Regions from separate parts of the Homo sapiens genome. Here region 2 is linked to region 1. Evidence: fine-mapped expression QTL. A gene starts in region 1. The other region holds a variant in brackets. All regions are shown on one strand. Distances are from middle to middle.

Region 1 (5,000 bases):
CTGCCTGTTTGATGGAAAGAACAGCTTTATTCCTCTGCCATCGACCCAAACGCAGGCTTGATGAATTCGGGACTGCGTCTGTTTAAAGTGTTAGATACACAGTGAAAGGAGAAGGCGGGAGGCAAAAATGAAAAACACCAACCCCACTTCCCTGGAAGGAAATGCGTTTCCACCTCCCTCCTCCTTGCAATTAGAAAAGCAAATTATTGCTGTGACTACGCTGAGAAAGGCAACTCGGAGGCGTAGAAAATGGATTTCTGAGCCAACGTGGCCCGGCAGGGGGCTGCTAAGGGAGGGTAAAAGGGAGCAGGGGAGCCACGGCTTGGCGGGGAGACCCGCGTTACCCGGAAGGCTTCTCGGAACGTTCTACCTGTTGGGCTTCGCAGCCGAGCTGCTCACCCCCGGCCGCCGCGCTCGAGGGCGCCCCTCCCTCTCCAGAACCCAAACTTTCCCTCGCACCCCTAGGAAGCGACGAGCCTCGTCCCTCCCCCAGTCCAGATTTCGGACGTGGAACTTTGCCTGAGCCACAAGGGACCGGAGGAATGGGGTTCATTCCCACGCCGCCCGGGGGATTCCCGTTGCTCGGATCCCAGAAGTGGGGGATGCAAACGGACGGTCAGCCCAGGACCTGGCCAAAGTTTCCTCCAAAACTGCAGTGGTCAAGGCGTGACCCAGGAGCTCGGAGTTTCCAGCTCAGGGCTGGGGGCTGGAGCAGGCCCCGGGGCACCAGCCGCAAGGTCACTGCGGAGCCGGACCCCGGGGGCAAACGGCCGGCGCGTGGTGGAGGGGCAACGCTGGGCACCCGACCACTCTCCACACCTGCTCAGCTCTGCGCGGAGCCCGGGACACGTGGGAGCCCAGTCCCGGGCTCCCAGCCTGCTGCAGGGACTCGCAACCTCGCCGGGGCGTACACCCTTCGCCCCCGGCCCGGCAACCAGGAAGAGGCGGCTCGCCCGGGCGCAGAGCAGCCGGCTCCGGGTAACTCTTTCATCCTCCGACCTCGGCAGCAGCAGGGAGGGAGTTTCGTTCTCCTCAAACCAGCCCCTCACCCCCGGTTGCTTCCCACACCTCTCCGTTTCCCTGCTACCTCGCAGACAGACAGACAAGGGACACAAAGAAAAAAAGAAGAAGAAAAAAAAAAAAAAAAAAACTACCGCCCCTCCTGGTCCCATCCTCCAGCCCGGAGCCGGTAGGAAGAAGAGGGCGAAGCACACCTTCCCTTCTCCTCCCCATCCCGACGCGGTGACCCGGGTAGATCTGGGCAGCCAGGAGCTCTGGGCAGCCAGGAGCCCCGAAGAGGCCGAAGGCGGAGAGGTAGGGTTGGAAGAGGCAGAAATCAGGCGGAGCGAGCTAGAGCGCGAGAGAGAAGAAAATATCCAACAAAACCACGCTAACGCGCCCCCTACCTGGGTGCAACATACTTTGGAAATAGAAGATGACCAGGATAAAGGATCCCAAGCAAGTGGCCAGCACCATCCGGCAGATTCTGTTCATCCTCATCACTTCCAGCAGCGCTGGCTTCATGGCTTTGTCCTGGCTGCGGGGACCGGGGTGTCCGGGAAGCGCGCCCGGGGCGCAGGAGCAGGGACCCCGCCGCGCGGACCGGAGCCCGGGAGGCGCGGGGCAGAGCTGAGCAAGGCTCAGAGGGAGGATCGGAGTCGCTTCGCGGCCGCTCTCGGAGCCCCCAGCCCGGGCAGGGGTGTGGAAGGTGCCGGAGTTGGTCTGGAAGTGCTGAGATGCGTGGACCCGCTGGCTGCGCGCTCCTGCTCCTCCTCCTCGCCGCTCCGCCGCCTCCTCCGATCCCGCCGGCGGCCGCCGCTGCCTGGTCGCGGGCCGGGCGGCTGGGGTGCGAGCGGTGATGGTGGTGCCGCCGCCGCTGCCGCTGCGCTGGCCGCTGTGGCTGTCCGACGGGCCCTCTCCCTTCTCTCCAAAGGCTACTTCATTGCGCTCCAACGATCTATATATTCCGGGGCTGGGTTTTACCAAATGCAACTCGCGGCCCCCGGCGAGGGGAGGGCGCCTGCGGAGAGCCGGGAGGAGGGAGGGACCCTAGCGCCGGGGCGGAGCGTCGCGCTCCCCCCGCCCCTACCCGGGATATGGTCGCGTCCAGCTGTTGCCCGGGGAGTGCGGTGTGCGCGCCGCGCTCCCGCAGGGTCCCAAAAGCCCTCAGTCCCCGGCCGGGCTCGGCCGCCGTCTGGAGGTTGTGTCAGCGTTTCCATGACAAAACCCGGAGGAAAAAAAGACGAAGAAAATCGCCTCGGTGCTGCCACCCACCCCCGCCAGCGTTTGGAGAGGGAAGTGGCAAGCAGCGGGCTGGGTCTCGGAGGGAAGAATTAAGGGTTAGGGGGTTTCTGGTGGCTGGCAATTATTTAAAATCCCTGGGCGACGTAGCGGGGAAGTTGCCCCAAACCCCCAGGGAGCGAGTGCCCATTTTCCGACGCTCAGAACTGGGCGGTTTCGTTTTTCTTTCAAAGGACAGCCCAGCTTGGGAGTCGGGGTTAAAGAGGGCTGACTTAAAGTCAGGGTTAAGGAAACTGCACGACCCTCGGGTCAGGCGACAGCTGAGCTTTCCCGGGGACTTATACAGACAGAATCTCTGACACCCACCATCACCACCATTCCTCAAGGCAAAAGGGATCTGTGGGTTGCAAAACTCTGCTACCCCAAAGGGTAGAGCATCCTCCAAATTATTCAAAATTAACAGCAGTCTTAGCTGGGAGGGGGTGAGAAAATGCCCCTAGGAAGCCACCTCAACCAAGTCCAGAAAACTGCTGGAAAAGCCAAGCCAGCCATAGCACTGGCAGGTACATGGAAAGATGGTGCTGCTTTCTTGTATTGTGTAGAATGACTTCCAGTTTCCAATTCCATGCATTTAGGCTGTTTCACAATCAATAAAGTGGACACAGCCAATAGTGTAGGGATCACTCGTATGTCAGGGAAAAAAAAAATGTTAGTTAGACTAACCTTTGTGCCTTATCAAGTCATTACTAATTCAATTAAAAATGAAATAAGATACTGTGTCTTTCAATGCCTCTCACAAAATAGGCATTTGATAAATTCTTATTGAATCTGAATGTAATGGGCCTTATCCTCCCCTCGATAGACAGAGACACAACTTGCAGTTAGACACATGCAACAAAAACCACCTGGGCAACCTCAGTTCCCTTCCCCCAGAGTTCTCCTCCAGCAGTTGCATGGTGGGGAAAGTAACAAACTCAGCAGCCTTGCCTTTGATTACAGAAGACAATCAAAGCACAATATTTATGTAGCCGGTGTGCGCTGTATTAATTTGGACTTACCTGTGAATAAGTTGCTTGCTCAAGGAAGCCAGGCTGAACAAGCTTCAGACAGAGTCGTTCTCCAGTGATTCTTCTGCTCTGGTGATAGGAGATCAGGAATGGGAGTTGCACTGCACCCTCCCCACCTCCCCACCATCATCACTAAGAAAGGGGATTCCTTGCAGAGGGCATGGCTTAGATGGGCATTTGCACAAAGCCTTTGCCTGGAATATAAGTCTCTCATTTAACACTTGGCTTTACAGAGCCAGGGAGGGGAAGGGATTTACTCCCAGGTCACCCAAGTGACCTCTCACCTCATAGGCCAAAGACTTCAGTTACCTGCCCCAAAGCCTGGACATGCACAAGGCAGTTTGGGAAGTCACAGGGTCAAGGAAGAGATCAGAAGTCCAATTCCCTGTGAGTCACAGAGATCATGGAGTTGGCCCACATGGTGGGGGAGGATGGTGAATCATGCCCAACATCCATTCTTGCATTCCCACAATCAGGAACCTGCCCAAACACAGTGAGGATTAAGGCTGTGACACATAAGCTACCACCTCTCCCAAGAAGTCTTTGCTGTTTTCTCACCTGAAATTGCAACTTTCCTCCTCTGCGCTGTGAGCACTAGGTCCAAACCTCTTTTGGGCCACTGTACCCACTAGGCTGAACTCCTTCCTGGAGATCCAAGTTGTCTTCATCTCTGTCTCTTTCTAATGCCCAGCACAATGACTGGTACATAGTAGGTACAAATAAGTCAGAGGCAGAGAGGTAATGCCTACTTGGACTAGGAAGTTAGATTAGATCACCTCTAAAATCTATGACAAAGGTCAGTGGTAATGGTCTGTGATTCTGTTGTTCTATGCACATTGAGGGGTGATGAAAAAATTCTGTTTTCTCCTTCATCACACTCTAAACTGCCCAACTACAGTTAGAATCATTGCTTTCTTTCCATTCCTAGCCTAAGAAAATTTTGTTACATCTTATGCTATATAATAAATATTAGCCAAGTAAAGGACAGTATTAACTGATAAAACTGAGGAGAAAAATTTTATACTTTGAACATTGAAAGAGGAACGGATCAGTCTTCAGATCCTTTCTCCCTCATCTTTCTAAATTCCCTTTTGCCCTGAAAGATTCTGCAGATTGGCATTGTGCTCATTGTGGGACCTGGCTTGATTGATTGACTCTCCAAATTCAACAACATGCAAGTGAAACTGGGGCCTGCATTTTTGTTTTGTTTTGTTTTGTTTTGTTTTTGAGACGGAGTCTCACTCTGTCGCCCAGGCTGGAGTGCAGTGGCGCGATCTTGGCTCACTGCAAGCTCCGTCTCCCGGGTTCACACCATTCTCCTGCCTCAGCCTCCCGACTAGCTGGGACTACAGGCACGTGCCACCACGCCCGGCTAATTTTTTGTATTTTTTAGTAGAGACGGGGTTTCACCATGTTAGCCAGGATGGTCTCGATCTCCTGACCTCGTGATCCGCCCACCTCGGCCTCCCAAAGTGCTGGGATTACAGGCGTGAGCCACCGCGCCCGGCCAGGGGCCTGCCCATTTTAAAGCCTGGCATGGCCCTGAAAAACTGGTTGAGGAGAAAGTCTTATTTATGTTGACGATCTTGTAGAATTTATAGCAGGGGAAGAAATCGGTGTGAAGTCACAATTCGGGCTTCTGGGTGCTGTTGTCAATGGACTGACAGATGTTTATGTGGCCCTTCCAATCCG
Region 2 (5,521 bases), 300 kb before region 1:
CTATGAAACTGAAGAAGCACTCATCAAGAGATCATCTGTTCCCACTGAGCATCCTTTTGAGCCTGAGGAGTAGGGAGCCACCCTGGGCCCTATACCCCACTCACCCTCTCCTCTCTTCCTTCTGTCCACACCACCCAAGACTTCCTCCACTCCCTCTGGGAGGGATAGAATTGTAGTCCGTGGCAGTATCCAGGATTAGAACCATTGCTTCATTAAATAAAGTACCTCTGTTGCTATAAACCAGATGGAGACTGTGGTGCTATTTTGTATTTTTTTTTTAATGGAAGGGTGTTGGGGTGGCAGTTTTTATCCTTGAAGACCTCAGATATGCTAAGTCAACCTAAGCAAAGTATACTCGGTGGAACCCTAGCTCTGTGGGGTGATCTGCAAAATAGAGTATCCTGGTCATGTAAGTTCAGGAAATGCTACAGACTCAAGGATTATTTTTGGGGATTCACCATGCACAGCACACATTGAAGGCTGAAAAGTCCTTGCAGAAAGGAAACTGACTTAACTTTGTTTCTTAAGGATATTTGACCACAAAACCCTTAGTCTGCATCACACCAACCTGATGCCTCCTGGAACCTGTGTTCTGTAGAATGCGTATTAGAAAATGTTGGACAACCTGTTTCATTATCAGAAGTCCCATTTCTGAGGACAGTGTTCTCTGCCTGGAAATAAGGTCCAGATTCTCAATTCCAGGGACAGCCAAGGTCTGTCACTCTACCCAGTAAAACACATTGCGTAAATCTCCATCCATCAAGGGTATAGTTGCTGCGCCCTTCACAAAGGGGAGAGAGCTCGGAAGAAGGTACACAACGTTTTATAAATAGCTTCAGCTACCTTCTCCGGCCCACATCTCACTCACGTTAAATAAAATAATTTCCCCGGTGAGATGTTGCAGCTGCTGCCCACTGAGCTTGCTGTGAGCTTTACAATACAATCTTAATAGTTTCTGTGAATAAATTATTCAATTTTTGTTTGTTTAGAATATCCTCACCCCTTCACTATATACGGCATCAAAAACAAAACAAAAGGCAAAACTTACCCACACCCCATCCCACCCTCCCCTATTATTAAAACTATTATTATTATTATATACAGTAGCTGCTACCAACTCATTCACTAGCTGTAAGAGGGATGTGGCTCAAACTTCAACTGAGAAGCATCAGCAATGGCTGGAAATGAGAAGCATGTTTAGATGTTAATTAGCAAGGAACAGGAAATGAAAAGTTTCCAGGCTTCCAGAGGAAATGGGGCATGGATTATGGAAGGCTGTCCTTGCTGCTCATGCATGGCAGTTACCAAGATGCTGATAGTCTTTCAGCCTCTGGAGGACGTGAGAGGGTGTGCATGTGTGTATGTGTACAAATAGTCCACCTCTGACCTTCATGAGGGGTAAAAACCATTGCAAATCCCCAAGTGTACGAGTCTCACCTTGGCATTTCACACTTGTACGTGGCAAGCAGTAGAAGACAACACTTCTACATGGGGATGTGGTGCTAGGCTGAATGGAGATGACAGTAGGAGGCACTTGAGGAGTGTTCCCCTTTCCTCACCCAAGGCAGACATTGCTAATCAACCACAGCACTCTTCCACACTGTGCCTGGAGAATCCATTCTGGGGCTTAAAGGCAGACATTACCCATCAGTTGGAGCAGGCACATGATAGGACACATTTTTTTAGCATCTTTTCTGTTGGTCAGTGAGCTTGGGATCACTCACGAATATAAAGTGGCCTGCTCCGAATGTGAGGTTTTCAAATATGGGCCATAGAAAAATGTAAATTTGTAGGGGTCATGGACCTTCTGCTGTTGCTCATGAATAGTCCAAACCTCATGTCAAGTCCATGAATAATATCAGGGGTTTGCTAATTGTCGAGCTGGATGCTCTATGTCACATAAAGCTTTTTGAGGGCCAAGACTATTGGGTTTGTTCAACGCTCTATCTTCAGGGCCTAGTATATAGTAGATGCTCAATAAATATTTGTCGAATATAAAGCAATAGCCACTTCACCTTCACTGCAACTGGCACCGCCAGTTTAAAATTCCTGTTAAAAAAGCCTATTCTATCAGATTGCTAATTCTGGTGAAAAATTGTTACAACCAACTTTCTCCTTGGGTTAAAAAAAAATCACATTTCTTTAGTGCAAGGGACTTTCAGGTCGATTGGAATTGGTTTGGAATGAGTCCCTTGCAAAGATGACTCTAAGTGCAATAGCAACCTACTTATTTCTAGCAGAAATTCAAGAATGGTGGCATCCATACACATGACAATGGCTGTTATCACATGACTCCATGAGAGGTTAGTAAGGAGAACATTCATGCCCCCAAATGAGCTGTAGCAAGCAAAGCAGGAATCATAGATTTCTTCTGGAAAGATGTTAGAATTTTGCTGCCACAAAAAGAAATAATGAGACCATGTTTAAATAACTATAAATAATATTAATTAGAATTTATGGAATGCACAATTCATGGAATTCACCAGAACACAAGAAACCTTTGAGACAGTGTTGCAGTATTCACTTCTACAGACAAGGACGACCCATCCTATTTCCCCTGCAAAGACAGCTGTCCTTCCCTACGAAGGATTTTAAATAATTCTCACTA[T/C]GCTGCTCGCAGCATCATCCCCAAAGAAATATTAATTTACAAAATAACCCAATATCCATATAATTCTTTTGACAAATAAAAATCTTAAATTAAAAAGCATGATTCTCTCCCTCTCCCCACCCCCTTTATTCCAATTTCAGGTAGCTTGGCACTGAGTAATTGAACATTAAAAAATCGAGTTTGTAGACTTCGTACAGCTGCGTTTGGTGCTCTGAGCTGATGTTCTGGAAGAATTCTGTGGTCATTTCATCAGTAGTTCTCGTAGACTTTGCATAGGTGGGGAACTTCAGGTAGCTGCCCACTCCTGCCAGCTGCAGGACGTAATTAGAATCCTCTTCCAGTGTCTCGTACTTGCCCACGAGGTCATAGTGGATGTGGCAGGGATGGCAGAGTGAGTAGACGGTTTGCCAGTGTTCGTTGAAAGGCTCCTCCCGCTGGGTGTGTGGGTCGATGAGATAGGCCACAAACTCCTCGAATTTGACATCGTCCCCTTTGCGCAGGGCCTCCTGGGTGGCGTTCTTCCGCTGGCGTTTGATGATCTTGGTGCCGTACCGCTTGTGGAAGGAGATGTTGTACTTCTGGGTGAACTTGTTGCGGTAGGCGGACACTAGCCTCTCGAAGGGCTCCCGGACAAACAGGAACTTCATGTAGCTTTTCAAGCGGTGGTTGATTTCTGGGATGCTGTACTGGTTCAGGGTCTTCAGGTTGGCGGAGACGTGTGCCTCGTTGGCCGGGATCTCCATGGGGTCGCTGTACTTCCCCCGCCCGGTCAGGACCATCATGAGCCGCTTCCAGTTGGTGCAGGCCACCTTGGGCACGTAGCAGTAGATGAGCTCGTGGTCCTCATCCACCACCAAGTGCTTCAGGTCGTTGGGGGTCAGCACCCTCCGCTTACGGCTTGTGGCGCTGTTGGCTCGGCACGTGTCTGTCACCTGGTCCCGCCGCATCTGGTGCAGGACAGCAGTGTTTGAGAGCTCCAGCTGCAGAGGAGACACAAGACGAATAAGAACTCAGTACTTGCCTGAAACATTTCCACTTGGCTACAAGTAGATCATAAATCCACCCGTTCAAACACATATCTAAGCTGGGTGCAGTGGCTCATGCCTTTAATCCCAGCACTCTGGGAAGCTGAGGCAGGAGGATCGCTTGAGGCCACAAGTTCAAGACCAGCCTTGGCAACATAGTGAGACCTCATCTCTAAAAAAACTAAAAAATTAGGAAGGCATGGTGGCGCACACCTGACATCCCAGCTACTTGGGAGGCTGAAGCAGGAGAATCACTTAAGCCCCAGAGTTCAAGGTTACCTTGAGGTATGACTGTGCCACTGTGCTCTAGCTTGGGTGACAGAGCAAGACCCTGTCTCTAAACACACACACACACACACACACACACACACCCCACATGGATCCAGACCTCATGATGTATAAAGTGCTCTGCTCAGCACTGCAAAGAGACATAACCTAAATCACTCATAGTCTAGGAGGTGCCAGGGCAGAGAGCTGTCAGCCTCAGTAGAGGGCAAAGGGAAATGCTTGGGAAGATGTGTGTGTTCCTCTGAATTCTAAGAGCAAAAGTTTCTCCCCAAAGGCCATTCACTCCCAGTCCAAACCAGTACTCACAGTCTACCCAGAACAGGAAACAGGAGGGCACTCTGCCTGCTCTGCCACCACCTGCGTCTCCAGCACCCAGAGGCTCAGAGACCTTCACGGAGTGGTGGCACCCTACTGTCGGATTCCTGCCTTACCTCCACCACCACTCATGAAAGTTCAGTATGGTCCTTCTTTTATATAAATGGAATAATATTAATTGTGATTAAAGTTACAGAGAAACTGGGGGCACAGGGCTATGGAATAGTTGCTCTGGAGCTACAGATGAGGTGGTGTCTTGGTTGCCTCCTTGCCCCAGGAACCAAGCCCCCATTCATACACTGGCCTTTTGGGGTTCTCCATAGCCCAATGCCAACCTACTTTTCCAGCCTGATTCCTACTCCTCACCCTTTCATAACCGGAGGGGGGGGTCCCGAGAAACCAATGATTCACTCTTTCCTCTTTGCCGCAAGCGTTCCTTAGGCTGGGCCCATCTGGGATTCTCCCCTCTCAATCTCTGCTGGTATAAACTTGACAATTCTTTTCTTTTCTTTTTTTTTCCAGAGTCTTACTCTGTTGCCCAGGCTGGAATGCAGTGGCGCGATCTCAGCTCACTGCAACCTCCGCCTCCAGAGTTCAAGCAATTCTCCTGCCTCAGCCCCCCGAGTAGCTGGGATTACAGGCACGCATCACCATGCCCTGCTGATTTTTGTATTTTTAGTAGAGACGGGGTTTCACTACGTTGGTCAGGCTGGTCTCAAACTCCTGACCTCAGGTGATTGGCCAGCCTCAGTCTCCCAAAGTGCTGAGACTGCAGGGGTGAGCCACTGTGCCTGGCCCCAAACTTGACAATTCTTCATGGCCCCACACACTCCCCTGCCACACAAGTGGAATAACCATTCCCTCCACTGAACACCCACAACACTGAGTGTGCTTCATAGCACAACCCTCCTGTCTAGTTCATTCTTGGTTTTCTCAACTCCTGTGGCCACTCACTTCACAGGGACTCGGAGCCCCAGAGTCACCGCCTCCTCCAGGCCAGACTGTGGGTGGCTTTGAGTCCTGAGAATGCAGCTGTATCCGTGAAATCCTCCAGTCACCTGGACAGCCAAGTCAGTAGAGCCTAGGACTTGAGTGCAACCCAAGTATCTGCCCCTGCTCCTCCAACTTTGAACCTCAATCTGCACAATTTTTACTAAAAGGTGCACAGGGCCATTGGGATGGGCCTAAAGTAGGGCCACTGATGAGTTTGCTGGGGAACTGAGGGGCATCATGGTAGCCACCAGGGAGAAGCCATTGCACCCTGCATTAAGCTCCATGTCCATCT

Evidence for each region. PIP is the estimated chance that this variant, and not a neighbour inherited with it, causes the effect.
Region 2: its variant is fine-mapped to the expression of CHST11 in whole blood (TOPMed, PIP 0.93).

The regions. Positions count from the first base shown.
Region 1 is chr12:104,453,936-104,458,935 of GRCh38, reverse strand. It overlaps CHST11 (carbohydrate sulfotransferase 11), which reads right to left and starts at 1,988. Exons shown (of 3, transcript NM_018413.6): 1 at 1,407-1,988. The coding sequence starts at 1,524. RefSeq lists silencers at 450-509, 670-809, 1,400-1,679, 1,720-1,889, 1,970-2,099 and enhancers at 1,200-1,249, 2,170-2,249, 2,270-2,319.
Region 2 is chr12:104,755,016-104,760,536 of GRCh38, reverse strand. It overlaps CHST11 (carbohydrate sulfotransferase 11), which reads right to left. Exons shown (of 3, transcript NM_018413.6): 3 at 1-3,588. The coding sequence ends at 2,734. Among named protein-coding and RNA genes, the nearest start is that of MIR3922, 170 kb to the right of the region's middle. The variant T/C (reference allele first, on the strand shown) is at 2,609.